7 linked regions of the Homo sapiens genome follow. The protein of the gene in region 1 purifies or fractionates together with the protein of each later gene. This does not show direct contact. Each region holds a gene or a part of one and is shown on either strand. Other genes may lie near its edges. The genes, in order: LURAP1, CDC42BPG, KIF3A, TBC1D2B, GTPBP6, UTRN and SNAP29.

Evidence for each region.
Region 2: the proteins of LURAP1 (region 1) and CDC42BPG purify together in Homo sapiens (co-immunoprecipitation; 2 studies listed by BioGRID and IntAct, with this or other methods). This does not show direct contact.
Region 3: the proteins of LURAP1 (region 1) and KIF3A purify together in Homo sapiens (affinity purification with mass spectrometry; one large-scale study listed by BioGRID and IntAct). This does not show direct contact.
Region 4: the proteins of LURAP1 (region 1) and TBC1D2B purify together in Homo sapiens (co-immunoprecipitation; 2 studies listed by BioGRID and IntAct, with this or other methods). This does not show direct contact.
Region 5: the proteins of LURAP1 (region 1) and GTPBP6 purify together in Homo sapiens (affinity purification with mass spectrometry; one large-scale study listed by BioGRID and IntAct). This does not show direct contact.
Region 6: the proteins of LURAP1 (region 1) and UTRN purify together in Homo sapiens (co-immunoprecipitation; 2 studies listed by BioGRID and IntAct, with this or other methods). This does not show direct contact.
Region 7: the proteins of LURAP1 (region 1) and SNAP29 purify together in Homo sapiens (co-immunoprecipitation; 2 studies listed by BioGRID and IntAct, with this or other methods). This does not show direct contact.

What each region holds. Positions count from the first base shown.
Region 1 is NC_000001.11:46,206,334-46,209,833, reverse strand, and holds part of LURAP1 (leucine rich adaptor protein 1), read right to left. Parts: intron 1-3,500. UniProt on the Homo sapiens protein: Acts as an activator of the canonical NF-kappa-B pathway and drive the production of pro-inflammatory cytokines. Promotes the antigen (Ag)-presenting and priming function of dendritic cells via the canonical NF-kappa-B pathway.
Region 2 is NC_000011.10:64,827,654-64,831,153, forward strand, and holds part of CDC42BPG (serine/threonine-protein kinase MRCK gamma), read right to left. Parts: intron 2,695-3,500; coding exon of another isoform or gene 2,625-2,694; exon of another isoform or gene 2,604-2,624; coding exon 2,541-2,603; intron 2,418-2,540; coding exon 1,818-2,417; intron 131-1,817; coding exon 33-130; intron 1-32. UniProt on the Homo sapiens protein: May act as a downstream effector of CDC42 in cytoskeletal reorganization. Contributes to the actomyosin contractility required for cell invasion, through the regulation of MYPT1 and thus MLC2 phosphorylation.
Region 3 is NC_000005.10:132,696,047-132,699,546, reverse strand, and holds part of KIF3A (kinesin-like protein KIF3A), read left to right. Parts: intron 1-251; coding exon 252-376; intron 377-2,864; coding exon 2,865-2,913; 3' UTR 2,914-3,500. UniProt on the Homo sapiens protein: Microtubule-based anterograde translocator for membranous organelles. Plus end-directed microtubule sliding activity in vitro. Plays a role in primary cilia formation. Plays a role in centriole cohesion and subdistal appendage organization and function.
Region 4 is NC_000015.10:78,067,712-78,071,211, forward strand, and holds part of TBC1D2B (TBC1 domain family member 2B), read right to left. Parts: intron 1-3,500. UniProt on the Homo sapiens protein: GTPase-activating protein that plays a role in the early steps of endocytosis.
Region 5 is NC_000023.11:306,528-308,796, forward strand, and holds part of GTPBP6 (putative GTP-binding protein 6), read right to left. Parts: intron 1,354-2,269; coding exon 1,205-1,353; intron 986-1,204; coding exon 833-985; intron 1-832.
Region 6 is NC_000006.12:144,459,835-144,463,334, reverse strand, and holds part of UTRN (utrophin), read right to left. Parts: intron 2,139-3,500; coding exon 1,993-2,138; intron 682-1,992; coding exon 469-681; intron 1-468.
Region 7 is NC_000022.11:20,869,007-20,872,506, reverse strand, and holds part of SNAP29 (synaptosomal-associated protein 29), read right to left. Parts: intron 2,171-3,500; coding exon 1,974-2,170; intron 1-1,973. UniProt on the Homo sapiens protein: SNAREs, soluble N-ethylmaleimide-sensitive factor-attachment protein receptors, are essential proteins for fusion of cellular membranes.

The sequences.
Region 1 (3,500 bases):
CTCTTTCCAAAATTTACATCTACAGCCGTGCATGGTGGCTCATGCTTGTAATCCCAGCACTTTGGGAGGCTGAGGCAAGTGGATTACCCGAGGTCAGGAGTTCAAGACCAGCCTGGCCAACATGGCAAAACCCCGTCTCTACTAAAAATACAAAAATTAGCTGTGTGGTGGCGGGTGCATGTAATCCCAGCTACTCGGGAGGCTGAGGCTGCAGTGAGCTGAGATTGGGCCACTGCACTCTAGCCTGGGCAACAGAGCGAGACTCCATCTCAAAAAAAAAAAAAGAAAAAAAAAAAGAAAACAACAACAGAACTTACATCTCCAGTCTTCTGCTAGATAAAGAATTAGGTGGCACCTGGTTGCACAGTTAGGGAGGGGATCTTAGAATATGACTTTTAAACATTCAACCAGCCCTTTTGTTTTCAGCCCCACTTGTGCCCCCAGTTCCAGAAATACCTGGTGCTTCCAACCCCTAAGACCTTTAAGGGTTTTTGCAGTATAAAATGTGTTGCTTTGGCAGGGGGCGGTGGCTCTGTAATCCCAGCACTTTGGGAGGCCAAGGCGGATGGATCACCTGAGTTCGGGAGTTCGAGACCAGCCTGACCAACATGGAGCAACCCCATCTCTACGAAAAATACAAAATTAGCTGGGCATGGTGTCACATGCCTGTAATCCCAGCTACTTGGGAAGCTGAGGCAGGAGAATTGCTTGAATCCAGGAGGCGGAGGTTGCGGTGAGCCAAGATTGCGCCATTGCACTCCAGCCTGGGCAACAAGAGCAAAACTCTATCCCCCACAAAATAAAAAAGTGTTGCTTTTCAGCTTTCCCCACTGCTGGCTCGGGACTGAGCATTTTTTAGGTCTGAGTTAGTTACCACTCTTCCTTCTGAATTTCAGTTTCCAAAATTTTGTTCCTATTACCTTGTCTCTTATTCTCATTGTCATAACGGCTTCATGCCTTTTATTTATTTTATTTATTTATTTTTCTCTTTTTGAGACAGAGTTTTGCACAGTCGTCCAGGCTGGAGTGCAGTGGCACGATCTTGGCTCATTGCAACCTCCGCCTCCAGGGTTCAAGCGATTTTCCTGCCTCAGCTTCCCTAGTAGCTGGGATTACAGGTGCACCACCACGTCCAGCTAATTTTTGTATTTTTAGTAGAGATGGGGTTTCACCATGTTGGTCAGGCTGGTCTCGAACTCCTGACCTCAGGTGATCCGCCCGCCTCGGCCTCCCAAAATGCTGGGATTACAGGCATGAGCCACCGTGCCGGCCCTCAATCTGGTATCTTGAACTGGAATTCCCACTGACTTTATTCATTCTTCAAGCCCCAGCTCAAATGTCACCTCCTCGAGGAAGTCTTCCTTGCCCTTCCTCGAGATGGAATTAATCCATTCAGTTATGGAACCAATATTTATTGTTTCTTATTGGTGTGGCACTATGTTCGATGAAGAAAGAAAAGGCATCATTTCTTACCTTCAGAAGGTTCATAATCTAGTGGGTAAGATAAGACAATGAAGCAAGCACTTAAAATTCAGTGTGGTTGGCTTGGCATTGTGGCTCAGCCTGCAATCCCAGAACTTCGGGAGGCTGACACAAACGGACTGCTTGAGGCCAGGAGTTTGAGACTGGCCTGGGCAACATAGCAAGACCCTGTCTCTATTAAAAAAATAAATAAGGCTGGTGGGGTGGCTCACACCTGTAATCCCAGCACTTTGGGAGGCCAAAGCAGGCAGATCACTTGAGGCCAGGAGTTCAAGACCAGCCTGGCCAACGTGGTGAAACCCCATCTCTACTAAAAATACAAAAATTAACTAGGCGGGTGCCTGTAATCCCAGCTACTCAGGAAGCTGAGGCAGGAGAATCGCTTGAACCCGGGAGGCAGAGGTTGCAGTGAGCCGAGATCACGCCATTGCACTCCAGCCTGGACGCCAAGAACGAAACTCCGTGTCAAAAAAAATAATGATAATAAATAAATAATTTAAAAATGAAAAGTTCAGGCCAGGTGCAGTGGCTCATGCCTGTAATCCCAGCACTTTGGGAGGCCGAGGCAGGCAGATCACGAGGTCAGGAGATCGAGACCATCCTGGCTAACATGGTGAAACCCCGTCTCTACTAAAAATACAAAAAATTAGCTGGGTGTGTTTGCAGGTGCCTGTAGTCCCAGCTACTCGGGAGGCTGAGGCAGGAGAATGGGCTGAACCCAGGAGGCGGAGCTTGCAGTGAGCCGAGATCGCACCACTGCACTCCAGCCTGGGCGACAGAGCGAGACTCCATCTCAAAAAAAAAAAAGAAAGAAAGAAAGAAAGAAAAGTTCAGTGTGGCAAACGCTAGTGGAAACAACTGCTATACAGAGGACTGTAGATACCTAGAGGGCCATAACCTAACCAGGTCAGGAAATGCTTCCTAGGATAAGGGACATGAGCTGAAAATTTAAGGTTAAGAAGGACTCAGCTAGGATGGGCGCAGTGGCTCACACCTGTAATCCCAGCACTTTGGGAGGCTGAGGCAGAAGATCACTTGAGGTCAGGACTTCGAAACCAGCCTGGCCAACATGGCAAAATCCCGTCTCTACTAAAAATACAAAAGCTAGCTAGGTGTGGTGGCACATGCCCATAGTCCCAGCTACTCAGGAAGCTGAGGCAGGAGAACCGCTTGAGCTTGGAAGGCAGAGGTTGCAGTGAACCGACATTGTACCATTGCACTCCAGCCTGGGTGATGGGAGTGAAACCCTGTGTCAAAAAAAAAAAAATAGAAGGACTCAGCCAGACAAAGAGGTGGAGAGAAGCATTTCAAGCAGAGGAAACAGCCTGTGCCTCCTTCCAATTTGAAATCGACTTTCTAGAGCACAAACCCAACCACATCACTCTACAGTGAAGACTCTTCCAGGAGGCCCTTCCTGGGTTCTACCAGCACTTATCATCCTGTACTAGAAATGTTCTTCTGTCTCCTCCTTCCCTAACCAGACTGTGAGCTCCCTGAGAGCAGATCCTGCCCAATCCATTTCTGGTGCTTGGCCCAGTGCTAAGGAGGTCACATTCAGTTCTGTGATTCTCTTGCCTTTACTATCCTTGACCCCTTTGATGGTTCCCAGGATTCAGGGGTCTGGGTTGTAGTGTGTTGCTGGGAAATAAATCTGAGAGCAGATTCTATAATCCTGTGGCAGTGGGATTCCCTGACTGTGACAGCATCACTCCCAGAATAGAAGAAAGCAAGGTTTTCTTGCCAGAAAAAGAAACACTCTTTTCACACCATCTCTTGAAGAAAATAGAGTATAGGATAAACAGCTCAGGAGAGATGCAGCCTCAGAGGCGACTCCAAACCCAATTCTCCTTCCAAGGAGATTCAGGCTCCCTACTCCTCTCCTTAACATCTACATACCAGACTCTCTGCCCAGCGCTGGGGTCCTGTATGGTTTCCTCATTGCTCAATATAAATCAGGCCCTAGGGTAAAAGCCTGGAAATCCCAGTCCGAGCTCCCAGAGCGGGGACTATCAGAATAT
Region 2 (3,500 bases), on another chromosome or scaffold:
GGCGCTACCCCAGGGCTCTGGCGGACCCTCACCTTCTTGAGCGGCACGGTCTGCACCCATTCTGCCCTCCTCACGTCAAACACATCGATGGAGTTCTCGCTGAACACTGTCAGGTAGGGGGCCGCATACCCTGCGGGCACGCCAGGCACCTCTGAGCTGTTTCCCCCTCTGTTCCACAGGGAACACCTTGTCCCCTGCCACAGCACAGTAACTACCATGCCCCACGCTAAGGTCCTTCCTCTGAAGACTCCCTGTCGCCCGGCCCAGCCTCCACATCAAATCAGAGATAACCCTGGACCACTCACCACATGCCTGGCTCAGTTCTAAACACGACATGCTTTTCCTGCCTTAATTTTCTAACAACTCTGAGCAAGTACTACTGTTATAATCCCTAATTTCCAGATGAGGGAATGGAACCCCTGGAGCCATGTGATGGTCAAGGTCAGGTCACTCAGCTGGTCCTGAGAGCTGCGATTTGGCCCTGGGCAGCTTGGGTGATATGCGGCACCCAACCTGCAGGCCCCACCCCAAAGAGCCATTGCTCACGAAGGACACTCTGCCCCTCTCTTCCAGCCCTTACCCATCATGCTAGTTACTTGTGCATGCACCAGACTGCCCCACTGCCTCATTCATTCATTCATTCACTCTTCCACTCATTCCTCCAAGCCCATCGCCCCTGGAGTGTGCCACCCTGGGCTGGGGGCTTGATGTGGATGAGGAAACCAGCCCCGGCCCATTCTGTGGGACCCCAGTGCACCAAGCCAGTCATGAAGTGGAGGCGATGAGAGCCGTGACACAGGTCTGGACGGAGAGAGAGTGGGGCAAAGAGAAGGAAAGGACCAATGACGGGGAAGCAGGGCGGGGAGCACGAAGGCAATGGTGACCACAGCAATCGCAGCGGTTATCTTTGGAGCGCCTACCAGCTCCAGGCCCTGAGCTGACACTGGGGTGGTACCTAGTTAAGAGTTTGCCAGGTACAGGCCGGGGCCGGTGGCTCACACCTGTAATCCCAGCACTTTGGGAGGCCGCGCGGGAGGATTGCTTGAGTTCAGGAGTTTGAGACTCCCAGCCTGCGCAATATGGCGAAACCCCATCTCTGAAAAAATACAAAAATTAGGCTGGACGCGTTGGCTAACGCCTGTAATCCCAGCACTTTGGGAGGCCAAGGCAGGTGGATCACTTGGTCAGGAGTTTGAGACCAGCCTGGCCAACATGGTGAAACCCCGTCTCCACTAAAAATACAAAAATTAGCTGGGTGTGGTGGCGTGCACCTGTAGTCCCAGCTACTAGGGAGGCTGAGGCAGGAGAATCACCTGAACCCGGGAAGCAAAGGTTGCAGTGAGCCGAGATCACACCACTGCACTCCAGCCTGGCGACAGAGTGAGACTCCTCTGTCTCAAACAAAACAAAACAAAAATTAGCCAGGCGTGATGGCACACACCTGTGCCCCCAGTTACTCGAGAGGGTGAGGTGGGAGGATCACTTGACCCCAGGAGGCGGAGGTGGCAGTGAGTCGAGATTGTGCCACTGTACTCCAGCCTGGTGACAGACAGAGACCCTGTCTCAAAAGAAAAAAAAAGTTTGCTAGATAGAAACAAAAGGAGAGCGGCTCAGGCAGGAGAGGAGCATGAGCTCAGCCATGGAAAAGGAAGGTCCCCTGCAAGCCACAGAGGGTGGGACAGGGTGTTGTTGGGCTGGAGGATGCAAACTGGCACCAAAGGCCTCCAATGCCAGGCTCATGAGTTGAGGCGGGACCCTGTCTTCACCCACCCACTGAAGGTGCCTGGCCCCCCTGCCAAGCCCTCAGCAGGCCTTACCCCAGCCCATGGGCGCTGCTGGCCACAACAGCTCGTGGCCACGAGACTTGCGGCCTGCGCCATCCACGTAGATGCCAGCAGTGGTGAAGAGTAGCAGGAACTCGCTGAGGCTAAGCTCCACGGCACCCAGTGCCTCACCCAGGCCCCCGCGGGATGGTGGCAGCTCCTCAGGCACCAAACCGGCCCCCAGCGCCAACGGCGCAGCCTCGTTGAGCAGCGGGTAGAGTGCAAAGCCACCGGCGGCGCCCACACATAGCCGGTCGCCCAGCAGCCCCAGGCTCTGCACAGTGGCAGGTGCCTGCAGCTCACGGATGCGGCGCTGCCAGGGCCCAGGGCCCGGGCCCAGCTGGTAGCAGAGCACCTGGCGCTTGACGGCTACACAGAGCACCGGGGTGCGGGCCTGCAGGATGCTTCCAGCTGCCAGCACCTGGCAGCCTCGAGACTCGGGGATCTTGGCACCTGCTACCTCTATGTTCTCCAGCTCCGCCAGGGCAAAGAGACGCACGCTGGGGCCGCGGCCACACAGCACGACCAGCAGGCCTGCACTGGGGCTCAAGGTCAGCTGCTGCACGCGCCGGCACTCCCCCACCTGGAAGATGTCTGCAGGGTTGGCGAGGGGAGAGTGTCACTGGCAGGTGGTTGAAGAGTGACCCATCCCCATCCTCCTCTGCCCGCTGGGGCTGCCCCTGCCCACGCCCACCCTAGCCCAGCTTTGATAGGTACCGTTGCTGCGCAGATGGATGACAAAGAGCCCCTCCTCGGTGCCAAGCGCAAGTCGATCCTGGTCTGGTAGAGGGAGGCAGAGGGTCAGAGGTCAGCAGTCCCACTCAATGACACGGAGATTGGGCAGTCCACCTGCCCTGCTGTGCCTGTTTATCTTGAGGAAATGGGGGTGGCAATAATCCCGCTGTCCCTGCCTCACTGACCCTTCTCTCCCAGTCTGGACAGGCTTTTCCAGAGGGGTTGGGGTGAGGCCCATCATCTTGAGCTGTGGGATTTTGGGTAAGTCATGTCACCTCTCAGAGCCTTGGTTTCCTTATGTAAACTGGGGACAACGATGGTACTTCCTCACAGAGCAACTCTGAGGAAGCGAGGAAGTGATGCAGGGGAGGGTTCAGCAGAGCCCCTTGCTCAATAAATCCCCTCCCCTCTGGTTCCCGACTGCTCCAGGGACCCGCACAACCTCTCCTGTGTCTCCCGCCCTGAGAGCCGGGCCTGGCTCAGGGCCTCAGCTGCTGGGGAACGCCAAGGAGCTCTGTTTCATGCCTCTTTCCCAGCCTTAGTTACAGAAGAGCCCTGCTGAGCCCCAGGTTCAAGGCTGAGCACAAGTGAAGCTCTTCGCAGCTCCACCCAGGAGATGTTATGAGGCTCTGGGTGGTTCTACAGCAGCTCCCCCAGTCCCCCAGCTTGTAGTGAGACAGCCAGGACTGAACCTTCGTTTCTCTCTTTCTAAAGCCTTTGTTCCAGCTGGGCACGGTGGCCCATGCCTATAATTCCAGCACTTTGGGAGGCCAAGGTGGGTGGATCACCTGAGGTCAGGAGTTCGAGACCAGCCTGGCCAACATGCTGAAACCCCGTCTCTACTAAAAATACAAAAAATAGCCAGGCGAGGTGGTGCATGCCTGCAATCCCAGCTACTCTGGAGGCTGAGACAGGAGAATCGCTTGAATCTGGGAGGCGGAG
Region 3 (3,500 bases), on another chromosome or scaffold:
GGCAGCTTTAAGAAAAACAGCAACAGTTTTTATGTCCAAGGAAATTTATAGTGTGTCAGGGCTTCTTACTCACCAACCTTTATTAAGTACATTTTAGATACTGGGATTAGAAGATGATGTCATTAGACATTTCTTTGGTTTTAGCTTCTGTGGGTTTGATCAAGGAGTTTATTCAGTATTTTAAATCTTCCCCCAAATCTGGCTTTAACTCTTTGCCTTAAGAGTGCTTTGTGTTTGTTTCTTTTACTTAGCCCTTTGAGGTGGACCTTTCTCACGTGTATCTTGCCTATACTGAGGAGAGTCTGCGTCAGTCTTTGATGAAACTAGAAAGACCACGAACTTCAAAGGGGAAAGCAAGGCCAAAGACAGGGAGAAGGTAAGGACTGTCCTTGAATCTGGTAAAACGAAGGCATTGAGGTATTCTAATTAGATACATGTACAGGAAGTTAAAATTTATTTAGTTAAAACATGATACATATTTTGGCTGATTTATTAAAAATCAAATTCCTGGCTGGGCACAGTGGCTCACGCCTGTAATCCCAGCATTTTGGGAGGCCGAGGCAGGTGGATCATTTGAGGTCAGGAGTTTGAGACCAGCCTGGCTAACATAGTGAAACGCTGTCTCTACTAAAAATACAAAAGTTAACCAGGCATGGTGGCGCATGCCTGTAATCCCAGCTACTGGGGAGGCTGAGGCATGAGAATCGCTTGAACCCAGGAGCCGGAGGTTGCAGTTAGCCGAGATCATGAGATCATGCCACTGAACTTCAGCCTGGGTGACAGAGCAAGACTTGGTCTCAAAAAAAAAAAAAAAAAATCAAATTCCTTATGTATTAGAATTTGAGTAAATAAAATCTGGCCAAAGAATTAAGGTCTTCCAACTTCTTAGGCTTCTGAGTAATAGAATTTATTTTTAATTCACTCTGTTATTTCCAAATGTATAATGGGTTTAATTCCTTAATTCTTAGACTAATTCTTCTTATGAAATGCTAATTAATTTGCCTGTTTGGTCTCCCAAGGTATTGTATTCAGCTGGTTAGTTTTTCTGTCAGGTGCCCCAAGAACCTTGATTTCCTCAGTCACCAGCTAAGGAGAACTTCCTTGGACATTTCCCCCTCTCCTTTGGGCACTGGTTTTGACTGTTGGGTAGTCTGCGTGTATCATCACATAAGCTCAGGGAAATCGGGATATGGGAGTCCTGGGCTGGAGCTTATTTTTTTTTCCTTTCCCTTTCCTACATCAAGGACTGTTCAGTTTATTTAAGCTGATTTTAAGACTCTGGGGCTCCTAAAATGTAGGAAATAATAAGCTGCTTTTTTCCCTACTTTGAGTGCATGGACTTTCAAGTTACATGTGGGATGAAGTTGTACGGTTTTGATATCTTTGTGTTACATAATCTCATAGACATGACTTAACACTTATAAATTTGGGATGGTTGAACTCAGGGTTGGGCAAACAGTTGAATATTAAAAATGTACAAATTTTTACATTCTTTAGCATTTAGGTGAGGGGTTAAAAACTTTCCTATACCAACACATGCCAAGCATATTGTAGTGAAGCAAATCAGTTCTAAGAAACATGAGTCCCTTTAGATGTATCTTTTTTTCCATTTTTAATAAAATGACAGTGCAAGTGTGATGATAAATGGTAAGACATTTGTCCCCAGCGTAGGAGAAAAATTGGCAGTGGTGAGCAGTCCTGTCTAAAGTGAGTGGCTGCTATTCTCTTCCTAGTTATCTATGGAAATAGAGGGCTCATTGTTTCTGGATCTTCTGTTTTCTTTTCTTTTCTTTTTTTTGAGATGGAGTCTCACTCTGTTGCCCAGGCTGGAGTGCCCTGAGTAGCTGGGATTACTGGCACCTGCCACCATGCCCAGTTAATTTTAGTATTTTTACTAGAGATGGGGTTTTGCCCTGTTGGCCAGGCTGGTCTCGAACCCCTGACTTCAGGTGATCTGCCCACCTCAGCCTCCCAGAGTGTTATGATTACAGGCATGAGCCACCGTGCCTGGCCTGGATCTTCTCTTTTCTAAGGAAAAGCCAGAAATTCGAATTATTTACTTGAGATCTGTCAATTTTACTTTTTTTTTTTTTAACTATATGGACCCTAAAGCAAATGAATAAATAATATGATATTTGAATACGTTTTCCAGAACATCCATTTTAAGATACGTCATTTTTTTAGTTTAACATTAAAAAAATCGTGTGGCCCAACATTATATGAGCCAAACTCACCATCTCTGTATACTGGAATTGGCCTGCTATAACCATGGAAACCCTAAGAAAATGGTAGCCATAAACATGGACAAATACATGCATTAAATGGTTTATTGATGCTATGTTACATTATATGATATGTTCAATGTGATGTTCCTTGTTAGAAACACATAGTTAGATGGGCTAGGCAAAATTGCAATAAATATAATACATTAATGTAGCATTTCCATAAGTCCCTACATATGCATCAGGTATTGCCTGAGATGATTTGTTTCTGATTTCCTCTGAATCCACTTGCACCTTTTGAGTACCTCAGAAGAGATAATCAGGAAGTTCAAATCTGGCAAGCATGCAGCTCACTTGGCCTGGCCACATGACCTAGTCTAGTCTTGGAAATTATCACCTGTCCTATCCTTCACTATCTGGCATAATGGGGTGGGCTGCCATCCTCTTGCATTTACTTTAAGTTAGCTTCCCGTAGCCTGAAAAGGCGAGCATTAATTGAACACTTACCATGGTCAAACGTGTCAAATTTTGGCTTGTTTCCAGACTATACAGGCCACCCCATAGTTTCTATATAATGTTAAATGTTTGCATTTCAGTCTTTTAGGAAAGCATTCATGATTGCTTTTTTTCTTCTCCAAACAGAAAGCGTTCTGCAAAGCCTGAAACTGTAATTGACTCTTTACTGCAGTAAATGTTACAGACTTAAAGTCACAATAAAAATTAGTGATATTCTCATGCCTGGACAAAATCTTTAATTAAAACAGTGAAGACTTCTCTATAATTTCAATTAATGGAAGTTGTAGATCAATGAATAAGACTGGAAATAATAATTTGCTTAAGAACTTTTAGTCTACATATATTAATATAACATTAAAATTGTACAACTGGTGATTGTTCAAATTGTTGTACTACTACTCTTCAATTGTACTGTGCAGGGAAGTTGGGGGAACAGTTCATACTATAGAGAGTTACAGTTTAGATGTATGTGTAAATCGATTAGCTATTTATCCAACTACTGTATATTTAGGTAACTAGAATTTCAAAATAGAAAAAAAAAAACTGTGTCCTGTTTTGCACATAGAAAGAAGCAGATCAGATTGTCCTATGTTGCGCTGTTATATATGAATGTTTGGACTGTACATCTAAAGAATGATTCCGTCCTAACACCCACCCAGCCTGTTTGAACACATTCTAATTGTCTAACATTTGTTGCATTTTAAGTATGAGATGACTGATCTTATGAATGTTTTGTAGAAAATGTTATAATTTAACAGTCTT
Region 4 (3,500 bases), on another chromosome or scaffold:
AGCTACCAAATCCCCACTTCTCACACTGGATTCTAGTTCTCCCAGGCAATCTCTGCAAAGGCTAAGAAAATGGCCAAGCATGCAAACTCATTAGAAGATGGTGATTCCCAGCTTACAGGGAACACATGTTGCTGATCAAACAGGAACTAAGTCTTTGAGCAGCTACACAATTATACCAACATTTACTAACTCCCTTGTCCCATCTTCTTCAGGGAGCTTTCTTGATAATCAGTTATACAGAACTCTCCAATTCTGCAGTGTTCACCAAAATTATTACACAAATCACAGATTTCTGGCCCTGGGCCATATCCAGATTAGTATTTTACATATGGATGCCCCCTCCCCTTCCTTTACTATGGAGAAGTGCCAGACTTCTCAGAATCAAAAAACTTGCAGACATGTGATATTTATCTCAGTGCTGAATACTACAGACAAACATGGGCCTCTTCAATGTTTTTTTCAAAACTCTTACAATTCTTTGATTATATCAGATGCTAAGCTATTTTTAAAGTTAACACTACAGTTTCTTAAATCAATGGAAAATTTTCACTGCTGTATTTGCAGCAAGCAGCATAGTGCTTAGAATATGATAGATGCTCAAAAATATTTGCTGAGTAAATGGACACTACAAACGTCCGTTTCACCATGAAATGAAAGCACACACACCACACCCACACACACACACACACACACACACACACACACACACAGAGGATATGAGGGCTTAAAGCATGCATTTAGCCAACAAGCATCTAACAGGTGCTGGGATCCTCTAAGTATGAAAGGCACAGTAGTGAAATACACTGACAAAATATCCTAGGAGGTGATGCTCTGGTAGGACACAACAGCAGACACTCAAAGACTAGACCAGGAGCAAAACCATCCTGAATCTGTAGCCGACTGAGGGCCTCCTGTGCTGGCTGGTGAGCTACTGCCTGCTGGACAATCACGAAAGCCACAGTCTCCCCAGGGATCCTCTCAGCTTCTTGCCCCTCACATGGCCTCACATATCTGAATGCCAAGATGTTTACTGAACTGAGCACTCCAGGCAAAGTACTTCACAGAACACTAGTTACAAGCCACTAACTAGTCACCACTACCCAGTTTACCATTTCCACATTGCATTCACTCTGTGAAAGCAAACAAAACCCAGCTGAGGGCTGGCCTGACAGGATATGGGTGAACACCCGATCACATGTCATTAAGATCCCACTACATAAATACCAGAACCGAAAATTGCTAATGAAAATGCCTCTCCCTCTCCCAAACTGACAGTCACTTCTACAATGGTGGGGGTCTTTTTCTTTCTTTAGAGGAAGGGGGTGTTACTGTTTGTATTTTGTTCTGACTGGAGGTGGGAAGTCTGCACCCCAGTGGCTCAAAGGTAAAAGCAACTGATCGAGGAGACTGGTCCACCCCCCTCAGACGTGAGGTGGGAGCTGGTACATCTGAATACTCCTTCCATTTCTCAAGAAATCGTCATCTCCACAGAGGAAGGAAACTGGTAATGTGCATATGAGCAAAGCAAGTGCAGCAGGAGAGAAGTCAATGCCGGGGGCCATTAGGAATGCTTCAGGAAAGGAAGTCCACCAGGGCGGGCCGGCCCTAGCCACACACACACCTGCCAAAGCGAGCTTCACCCATCACAACACCCACCACTCAGAAACAAAATTAAGAAGCAACTGCTCAAGATAGGTTCAGCTTTGCATTTATCTACTTTTAAATCTGTTTGCCAGTACATAACATATAAATACATCAACCCTTTGTACCCAACACGATAATCCTCTAACTTAGTTACATAAAAATACTAGGCATGACCAAACCATCAGTGCCACAGTCCAAACGTGTGTCCCCGCAAAATTCACGTGTTGAGACCCAGTCCCCAAGATGATAGTACTAAGAGGGAAGCCTTGTGGGAAGTGATTTAAGTCATGAGGGCAGAGCCCTCTGGAATGAGATCAGGGTCCTTATGAAAGAGGCCAGAGTGGTAAAAGGAATTTGAGGAGAAAAATACATTTAGATAGATAGATACATACATACATATATACAAACATACATAGATGGAGGCCCCAGAAGGAACTTGTCTGTCCCCTTCTGCTATGAGGACACCACTAGAAGGCACCACCTCTAAAGCAGAGTGAGCCCTCACCAGACACCAAATCTGCTGGTGCCTTCATCTTGGGCTTCCCAGCCTCCAGAACTATGAGAAATAAATTTCTGTTGTTTATAAGCTACCCTGTCTACGGTATTTTTTCACAGCAGCACAAATGGCCTAAAACAATCTATCTGGGAGCAGAAGAAAGAAAACAAAAACCTATTTGTCAAACCCTGCTTAAAACTCTTTACTGACTCTAGCTCTTAAGATGAAGACCAAAATCCTGCCCTGGCCCAAGGCCTGCCTCTTCCAAAGGCTATGTCCCCTTCACTCCTAGTTGCCACCAGGCACTCCTTGAGTCCCACATGCAACCAGCACCCCCACCTAAGGGCCTCTGCTTATGCCATTTCCTCTCCCTACAACACTTGACTTCCTCCTCTCCACCCCCACCCCCGCTCCAGTCAACACCAACTCATCCTTTGAGTCTCAGCTCAAATGTCGCTTCTTCAGGAAAGTCTTTCCTAGCCCTCCACCAACCATAAACCAGATCAAGATCCTGAACTATACATGCATTGCATATCTTTCCTTTCAAACTTCCTAGCACTGGTTGGTGTTTGTTATATTTTATTAACGTCTGTCCCCCCCACCTACTGAAAGCTCCAGGAGGACAGGGACTGTTTGTCTTGTCCAGTCATATCCCCAGTGCCTAAGCACACACAGTGAGTGAATGAGTGGGAAGCTCCTGAGGCCTTCCTAGAACACAAGTCAGTGAACTACAGCCTGCGGTCATTTCCAGTCTCTGCCTATTTCTGTACAATCTACAAGGCAAGGGCAGTTTTAACATTTTTATTTTGCTATTTTATTTTTTTGAAACAGGGTCTCCCTCTGTCACCCAGGCTGGAGTACAGTGGAGCAAACACAGCTCACTGCAATGTCCACCTCCTGGGATCAAGCAGTCCTCCTGCCTCAGCCTCCCAAGTAGCTGGGACTAAAGACATGTGCCATCATGCCTGGCTAGTTTGTTTTTTGTTTTGAGACAGAGTTTCGCTCTTGTCGCCCAGGCTGGAGTGCAATGGCGCCACCTCAGCTTGCTGCAACCTCTGTTTCCTGGGTTCAAGCAATTCTCCTGCCTCAGCCTCCCAAGCAGCTGGGATTACAGGCATCCGCCACCACACCCAGCTAATTTTGTATTTTTAGTAGAGACAGGGTCTCACCATGCTGGTCAGGCTGGTCTCAAACTCCTGACCTCAAGTGATCCACCCACCTCGGCTTCCCAAAGTGCTGGGATTACAGGCGTGAGCCACCACATCCAGCCACACCTGGCTAGTTTTTTTTAATTTTTGTAGGGATAGGGTCTCACTTTGTTGCCTAGGCTGGTCTCGAACTATTGGTATCAAGTGATCCT
Region 5 (2,269 bases), on another chromosome or scaffold:
TTGTCAGCACAGATTAGGCAACTGTTGTATGCAGTCAGAAATGTATTTTTACTGTCAAGCACAGATTAGGCACCTGTTGTATGCAGTCAGAAATGTACATTTTGACTGTCAGCACAGATTAGGCACCTGTTGTATGCAGTCAGAAATGTACATTTTGACTGTCAGTGCAGATTAGGCACCTGTTGTATGCACAGAAATGTACATTTTGGCTGTCAAGCACAGATTAGGCACCTGTTGTATGGTCAGAAATGTACATTTTCACTGTCAGCATAATTAGGCACCTGTTGTATCCACAGTCAGAAATGTATATTTTGAGTGTCAGCACAGATTAGGCACCTGTTGTATGCAGTCAGAAATGTACATTTTGACTGTCAGCACAGATTAGGCACCTGTTGTATGCAGTCAGAAATGTACATTTTGACTGTCAGCACAGATTAGGCACCTGTTGTATGCAGTCAGAAATGTACATTTTGACTGTCAAGCACAGATTAGGCAACTGTTGTATGCAGTCAGAAATGTATTTTTACTGTCAAGCACAGATTAGGCACCCGTTGTATGCAGTCAGAAATGTACATTTTGACTGTCAGCACAGATTAGGCACCTGTTGTATGCACAGTCACAAATGTAGATTTTGACTCTCAAGCGCAGATTAGGCACCTCTTGTATGCACAGTCACAAATGTACATTTGATGCAAACCCATTCATCTCGTCTGTACATCCTAAAGCTCTCGGGGATCTCACAGCTCCTTGTGCACCCACGAAGAGCCCGTTTCAGAGCCAGAGACAGGCATCCAAAGCACCATCCCGTCTCCTGCCCCTGCAGGCCGCTCACCTGAGCTGCGCCCCTGCGAGCCTCACACGGAGAGTGAGGATCTGTCTCCCCGTCGCCTTCAAAACCGCCGCATCGAGCTCAGCTTTCAGCTCCTGGAGCCCGTGGCCCCGCAGGGCAGACACGGGCACGACGTTCGGTTCCGTGGGGCTGTACCTGCAAGGGTGGGGATGTCACAGGCCCCGCTCAGCGTCGGGGCGGCCGGACGAAATCAGGGTCCCCAGGAGTCCACTGCCCACGGGGCACAGTCTGGGGCCACTCCCTGTGTCCTGACTGCCACCGCTGCGGTTCACACGAGGAGACGGGGCATCTCCCCACCCGGCTCCAGCGCGTGCAGGGGAAGGAGACGCTTGCGGACCCCAGGGCCGGACTCACCCGGGCACGAGGTCCACCTTGTTGTGAACCTCCACCATGGAGTCCAGGAGCGGGGCGGGCAGCTGCAGGCCACGCAGCGTGGACAGAACGCTGCATTTCTGGAGCTCCGCCTCGGGGTGGCTGACGTCCCTCACGTGCAAGATGAGATCCTGTGGGCCGGGCCGTGGGGTCAGAGCTGCGGAGCCTCTGGTCCCTGACCCCAAGCTTGCAGACAGGCCCAGGAGAGGGGCTCACACGAGCTCCCAACGACAGGCTGGGCATGGGAGGTACGCCTGTGTGCAGGCCCCTCGGACACCCCAGGACGGGGGCTCCTAGACCAACAGTGGACGCGAGCCCACCCGGCTGCACTTACCCAACCTTCCAAGCCACAGGCAGCAGCTCCGCACCCCCAGACCCACACGCAAGGGGGTGCCATATATGAGCACCCAACCACCACCCACCCACCCAGGGGGTCTTCATTCAAAGCTTTAGGGCGGCTTCATCCTCCTGTGAAATGTCTTTTAACAGCGGAATTATTTCCTCTTTAAAGGATGCTTTTTTTCTCACGTTCAAAAAAAATCTTACAGGCAGGCTCCTTACACAAAATTTGAAAAACACAGGGAAAAAAAAATAAAGCCGTGTGTAATTCTCCAACTTATACTACCGGGGTATCCACGTCTACTTTTTGTTTGTTTGGATGCACTTAATACAAATAATATTTTTCCTGTAACTGAGGCACTTTGGGAGGTGGCTTGAGCCCAGAAGTTTGAGACCAGCCTGGGCAAGAGAGTGAGGCCGTTTCTACAGAAAGTACAAAAATTAGCCATGGCCTGGTTGTGCGTGTCTGTGGTCTCAGCTACTCAGGAGGCTGAGGTGGGAGGATCACTTGAGCCCAGGAGGTCGAGGCTGCAGTGAGCCGAGATCATACCACTGCGGTTCAGTCTGGGTGACAGAGCGAGACCCTGTCTCTAAAGAAGAAAAGTAAAAACAAAAAAAATAATTTCATCCCAGGAAAGTTTTACTTTTTTTTTTTTTTTTTTTTTGAGACGAGTCTCGCTCTGTCACACAGGCTGGAGTGCAGTGGCG
Region 6 (3,500 bases), on another chromosome or scaffold:
GTCCCTGGAACGATTTGCCTTCCCACTCTGACACTGTCAATGGCCTATCTCTGACTTTTGACTTCAAATGTCAAAAACCTGCAAAAAGTAGTTTCATGTATTCAGCAATTTACTACTACCTGGGCTATTTCTACCACCCCAACCAAGTTACTACTATAATCTAATCAACAGTCTGTATTTCACACAGGCCCTCCATGCCTGAAACATTATTTTGACCATTTTTAAGCAATTTTCTCTTATCTTCAAGGTCCAGTTTACTCTACTTTTGACTTTGCTTCCAGGCAAAAGGAAATAAATGTGCTCTCTAGCACATTAAAAGTACATCTTTGATAAGTCCCAACTTAAATACATAATAAATGGGGATCTAGAAAGAATGTAAAATATTTAAATAATAAATACGTGAATCTTATAAGATAATTACTATTTACCCCGTAATAAACTTAAACTCCCAGTGGCCTCTGGATTTACCTCAAAAGCTCTGAGTGTGAGAGCAATTTCCTCAAGCAAATGTAGATCTTTGGAAACCAAGACCTTTAGCTTGTTCCACTTTCCTTGCACATCATCAAATTCTTGCTTATATAATTTTTCTACATCAGGATGAACATTTTTCTCCAGAGCCTTTGTTTCTTCTGCAAGTTTATGTAATGCAGGTTTCTGATTCTCAAGGATTTCATCAAGGGTCTGGAAAAAGTTTTAAAAGATTAAAAATATGCACAAAAATGTGTCTGCACAGATATAGTAAAATGGGCTATATAAAGTCAAAAGTCACTTTAAAATGCATTAGAAAGCATTTTTATCTAAAAAGAACAGTGGGTGGGAGTGTGAATTAGTTCAACCACTGTGGAAGACAGTGTGGTGATTCCTCAAAGACCTAAAACCAGAAATGCCATTTGACCCAGCAATCTCACTGGGTATATACCCAAAGGAATACAAATCATTCTGTTATAAAGATATATGCACACTATGTTCATTGCAGCACAATTCACAATAGCAAGGACAAGGAATCAACCCAAATGCCCATCAATGATAGACTACTTAAAGAAAATGTGGTACATATCAACCATGGAATACTATGCAGCCATAAAAAGGAACAAGATCATGTCCTTTGCAGGTATATGGATGGAGCTGGAAGCCATTATCCTCGGCAAACTAATTCAGAAACAACAAAAAAAAATACCGCATATTCTCACTTATAAGTGGGAGCTGAATAATGAGAACATACGGACACATGGTGGGGAAAAACACACACTGGGGTCTGTTGGAGGGTGGGGCATGGTGGGAGGGAAAGCATCAGGAAGAAGAGCTAATGGATGCTGGGCTTAATACGTAGTGCAGCAAACTACCATGACACACGTTTACCCATTTAACAAACCTGCACATCCTGCACAAGTACCCCTGAACTTAAAATAAAAGTTGGAAATCAAAAAACAAAACAAAACAAAACATGAAAAACTCATGAAAAAAATAGGCATAATCATAAAAATTAAAGCTTTTTCTTCATGAGTTGTGTGTGGGCAATACAGTGTATTCTCAACCCTAAAAACCAAGGGAACAGCAAACCCAGTGTGGGCCAAGTGTGCAGTGCTCAATGGCTGCTCTCCTTTTCATCTAATAGCACAGAGCCATAAGGCTACTCAACTAAATGACCTCGGAAACATTCCTATTCGATGCAGAAAAAAGTATACATCAACACGTCAACTGATAGTCCTCATTTCATAAAGATATTTTAGCAGATTTTATGAACAGGTTGAGAATTTTAAGCTAATCACAGCAGAAGGAGAAAATATGCTTTTCTTCTATGAAAAAATTTTTAATAACTGTACTTTCTTTTATGTGAGGTCAAACTAACCCTCAAATCATAAACACATTTTTGCACCAATGATGAACAAAACTGACCAACTTTTTTTTTAATCTCTGAAAAAACATTTCAAAATATGTAAGAGGAGATATTAGAAGAAGCGCTAGAGTTCTAACATGGAAGATATATGTTACCTTTTTTTCTTGCAGGGCCTTCTCCACCTTGGCAAGATCATTAAGGACATTCAGAGACACCTGGGCCTTATTTTCTGAATCATTTAGCACATCTTTCAGTGTTTTCAATGTTTCCAGATATGCATGTCCAGGTTGGCCCTTCAGTTCTGTTTATTTAAAAATATTTAGTTTGAAAAAATCATATTAGGAACCAATATTATTACATAGACCATTATCCTAAATGAATTCCAATACATGGCAAAGGAGACCCCATGATTAAAATGTAAAAGGGTCTCTGTTAATTAACAACATAGATCATTCCATTGGCATTTCTGAGAGTCAGACAGTGACTTCATTCCTGCGGATGTTGACGTTTGAAATATTAACTAACCCACTATAATTTTTCTTCATTTCTTCATGATGAAATGTCTCTCTGAAGATGGAACAACAATGTCCCTTTTGTTCCATATAATCTCCTCTTCCTTAACAGCTACACAAAGAATAAAAGAAAACAAAGATCCCTTCAACCAGTCTTGCTGTAAGCTCCACCGTGTAGACAAACCCAGGTCCAGAGTGGAGGAGATTATATGGAAATACTGCCACCATGCTGCCCAGGTACCCTGAGAAATAATGACTGAACAGCCAGCTGGAACAGTGTCTACCTCAGTCACTAATGTAAAAATATCACAGAAGTAACACTTGCGTGGAAAGGAAGTGAGTTCTCTTGAAGCACAAAGAGGTGAAACCAACTAGCAGCAAAAGTTAAACTGCCTACTGATCCTTGTCAAAAGTGAAAGCACAGCTTGTACCAATAAGTGGAGAAAGAGGTACCCTCAAAGACATATTTCACATAACTGAATTCAAGGAACAAAGACATGCTGTCCAGATGCACTTTCAGAAGAAAGGCAATACGACACATTTGCCTAGCATGCACACATACAGACACTTCCAGTCATCACACAATCTACAATTGCTGAAGTTAGGCTGGGTTACATGTGGAGCATTTCACACAATGCTCAATGCATTTCACAAAATAATGCACAATGCAACACAGTTCCTAACTCAAATGGCAGCTAGGAAGTAAATAGTGTAACGTAGGAGGGATGAGCTTTCAAAATCTTTAACAGTGAACCTTCCAAAACCAAGTGTATTCCAAAAGTAAGAACTCTAAAATTTTTCTGAATCTGACAGTGGAATATGATTTCTTTTAAAAGACAGTATGAGACTGCCAAAACTTTAACTATTTTGAGGAAACAGAAGTAAGGGATCATTCATTTTGATCCTCCTAGCAATGATATTAAGTGGCCTCCTCAACCAAAGGAAGAAATTGCACCTGTTTCTCAAAAAAAAAAAAAAAAAAAATCTTTAAAAATCATTATATCCAGGTCAGGTACAATGGCTGACACCTGTTATCCCTGGTATTTTGGGAGGCTAACATCTGTTATTTTGCCTAACACCTGTTATTTTGGGAGGCTGTTATATCACCTGTTATAATGGCTTACACCTGTTATTTTGGGAGGCTGAGGTGG
Region 7 (3,500 bases), on another chromosome or scaffold:
ACGGCATGAACCCGGGAGGCGGAGCTTGCAGTGAGCCGAGATCGCACCACTGCACTCCAGCCTGGGTGACAGAGTGAGACTCCGTCTCAAAAAAAAAGAATTAGCCAGGCATGGTGTGGGCACCTGTGATCCCAGCTACTTGGGAGGCTGAGGCAGGAGAATCGCTTTAACCTGGAAGGCAGAGGTTGCAGTGAGCTGAGATCACGTCTTTGCACTCCAGCCTGGGCAACAAGGGTGAAACTCCATCTCAAAAAAAATAAATAAATAAAATAAAAAATAAATAAATAAAAGAGAGAGAGAGAGATGGTTATGGAACCTGAGTTATCACATAATATCAAGCAGTTTTTCTGGGTTAAATGGAAGAAAAAGGCTATCAAACCAAAAGAATACTATGGTTACAACTATGAAAATACTGAATAAGGGGAAAATGAAATTTTCTGTTTTTGTGTTGCGGTAGGTAAAGTATAGATTGTCTGTAATGTGGCCATGTTGTTTTTGTAATAAAAACAGACACAGTGATCTGAAATACAAACAATAGTAATCTACTTCAGCAGAAACTCCATTCCTTTATCCTTGAACATGTAACACTGAAGTCTACCAAAATCTCATGAATTTTTTTTTTTTTGAGACGGAGTCTTGCTCTGTCGCCCAGGCTGCAGTGCAGTGGCATGATCTCAGCTCACTGCAAGCTCCACCTCCCGGGTTCACACCATTCTCCTGCCTCAGCCTCCCGAGTAGCTGGGACTACGGGCGCCCGCCATCACGCCCAGCTAATTTTTTGTATTTTTAATAGAGACAGGGTTTCACCATGTTAGCCAGGATGGTCTTGATTTCCTGACTTGGTGATCCACCCGCCTCGGCCTCCCCAAGTGCTAGGATTATAGGCGTGAGCCACCGTGCCTGGCCCCCAGTCTCATGTATGATTTTATATTTCGAGCCAAAACCTGAGGAAAGCAACTTCTAACTTTATTTTTTTGATTTTAATTATTTAGCTTTAAATCTTTTTTTTTTTTTTTTTTTTTTTAGAGACAGGGAGACTCTGTCACTGATGCTGTAGTGCAGTGGCACCATCATAGCTTAACTCTAGTCTCTAACACCTGGGCTAAAGCAATCCTTCCACCTCAGTCTCCCCTGTAGCTAGGAATATAGGCACGTGCCATCATGTCTGGCTAATTTTTTTTTTTTTTTAGTTTTTATAGAGACGGGTCTTTGCTATGTTGTCTAGGCTGGTCTCAAACAATCCTCCTACCTTAGCCTCTGAAAGCATGGGATTTTACAGATAAGCCACTGAGCCCAGCCTTATAATTTTCAAATAAAAATCAATGGGCGAATTGGATTAGATATGACAAATTTAGACATAAAGACTTTTTTTTTTTTTTTTCTTGAGACAGGGCCTCCCTCTGTAGCCCAGGTTGGAGTGCACCATTACAGCTCACTGCAGCCTTGATCTCCAGGCCTCATGAGATCCTCTTACCTCAGCCTCCTGAGGAGCTGGGACTACAGGTGTGCACCACAATGCCTGGGTAATTTTTGTAAAGACTGGGTTCCCACTATGTTGCCCAGGCTGGTCTCGAGCTCCTGGGCTTAAGCAATCTACCCACCTTGGCATCCTGAAGTGTCGGGATTACAGGTGTGAGCCACTGCACCCAGCCCTAAAGATTTTTTAAAGCAAAAATTATGTGAAGTGAGTCACATTTGTACAGATTACGCTGAGGTGAACACCCTCTCTTTCAAAGTAGTGGGGTCACAATTATTGGAGAAGCTATTGACAGACTAGATGTCAATCAAGTGAACATGGGATCAGGGAAGAACAGTTCCTGGTTTCACAATGTTTGAGGACAAATATCCCCTGATGAGTAACTTAAAGGGTTGTTGGATCCCTTCATGGCACTGACGTGGACTGAAAGTCTTGGTCATTTGCACTAATCCCCACTTCTGCTCCTTTATACCCAGATGGTAGAAGATGCACTCACCTGTTGTTGGGCTGGGAGGTGAGGGTGCCATTCTGTTCAGGTGGGGTCTCTACTGGTTTGGATTTGAAGTAATTGACCAGCCCCCCAAACACGCTCTTAATGCTATTGATGTGTTTCTGGCTGATCTTCAAATCTTGGTCCATCTTGTCCACCATCTTCTCTGTGCGCTCCAGGACTCCTCGCTGACGGGCGAGCTCCTGGGGAAACCGAGAGGCAGTGGCATTATAGCTTTCTGTGACTCTCCCCCAGGGCAGTCAAGGACCACATGGAGCAGCCCCTTCATAAACTCTCAGTGGGCACATCTGGAGACGGGTACTGTCATCTGTGAGGGGCACACTACCCTTTCCAACAACACATTCCTTTGCCTCTCCCTCCCTGCCCTACCTCTACTTGCTTTCCTCATTTGTTCATGAGACCCTTTTCCTGAGAGGCTGGCTCATGGCGCCATGTTAAGATGGATGGCAGAGGGTGGCGCAGTGATTCACACCCGTAATCCCAGCATTTTGGGAGGCTGAGGCGGGCAGATCATGAGGTCAGGAGTTCAAGACCAGCCTGGCCAACATGGTGAAACCCCCTCTCTACTAAAAATACAAAAAGTAGCCAGGTGTTGTGGCGGGCACCTGTAATCCCAGCTACTCGGGGGGCTGAGGCAGGAGAATTGCTTCAACCCTGAAGGCAGAGGTTGCAGTGAGCCAAGATGGTGCCAATGTACTCCAGCCTGGGCGACAGAGCAAGACTCCGTCTCGGTTGGGGGTGAGGGGAGATGGATGGCAATGTGCCTGTGAGGTTCAGAGTCTATGGCCTGAACTGGAAGCAGATTCTCTCTAGCCCTCCAACTCTGGGAACCCTCACAGGTTGGGCCTGGCACTGCCCCCTGGACTTTGGTTCTTATATTCTTCCTTTAGGAAGTTCCCATTTAAGGAGTTCCCACTGGGCCACCTGAGCCTCCTGGCCATGGTCAAATCCTCAAATTCTATTTCAAGGACCAGTGTCCCCTCTGGGCCCTATTAGTGTCTGACTCTAGCCCATCCACAATTCCAGCTTTAAAACCTGTTAACACGGGTGACCCTGTCCCAGGGCCTTTGCACACACCACTGTCTCCGCCTGTAATGTTTTCCATCCAGATACTTACATGGCTCAGCCTCTCATCCCTCATCCAATTAGGGTCTCCTTTCAAAGGCCACTCTCTCAGAGAGGCCTTCCCAGACATCTTCCCTAAAGGAGAATTCCTTCTTCCAACCACTACCCCTCTTCTCCACCTCCTTTTCTGTTTTGAGATGGAGTCTTGCTCTGTCACCCAGGCTGGAGTGCAGTGGCGTGATATTAGCTCACTGCAACTTCTGCCTCCTGTGTTCAAGCGATTCTCCTGCCTCAGTCTCCTGAGTAGCTGGGATTCCAGGCGCCTGCCACCATGCCTGGCTAGTTTTTTGTATTTTTGGTAGAGACGGGGTTTCACCATGTTGGCCCGGCTGGTCTCGAACCACCCGCCTCGGCCTCCCAAAGTGCTGGGATTACAGGCATGAGCCA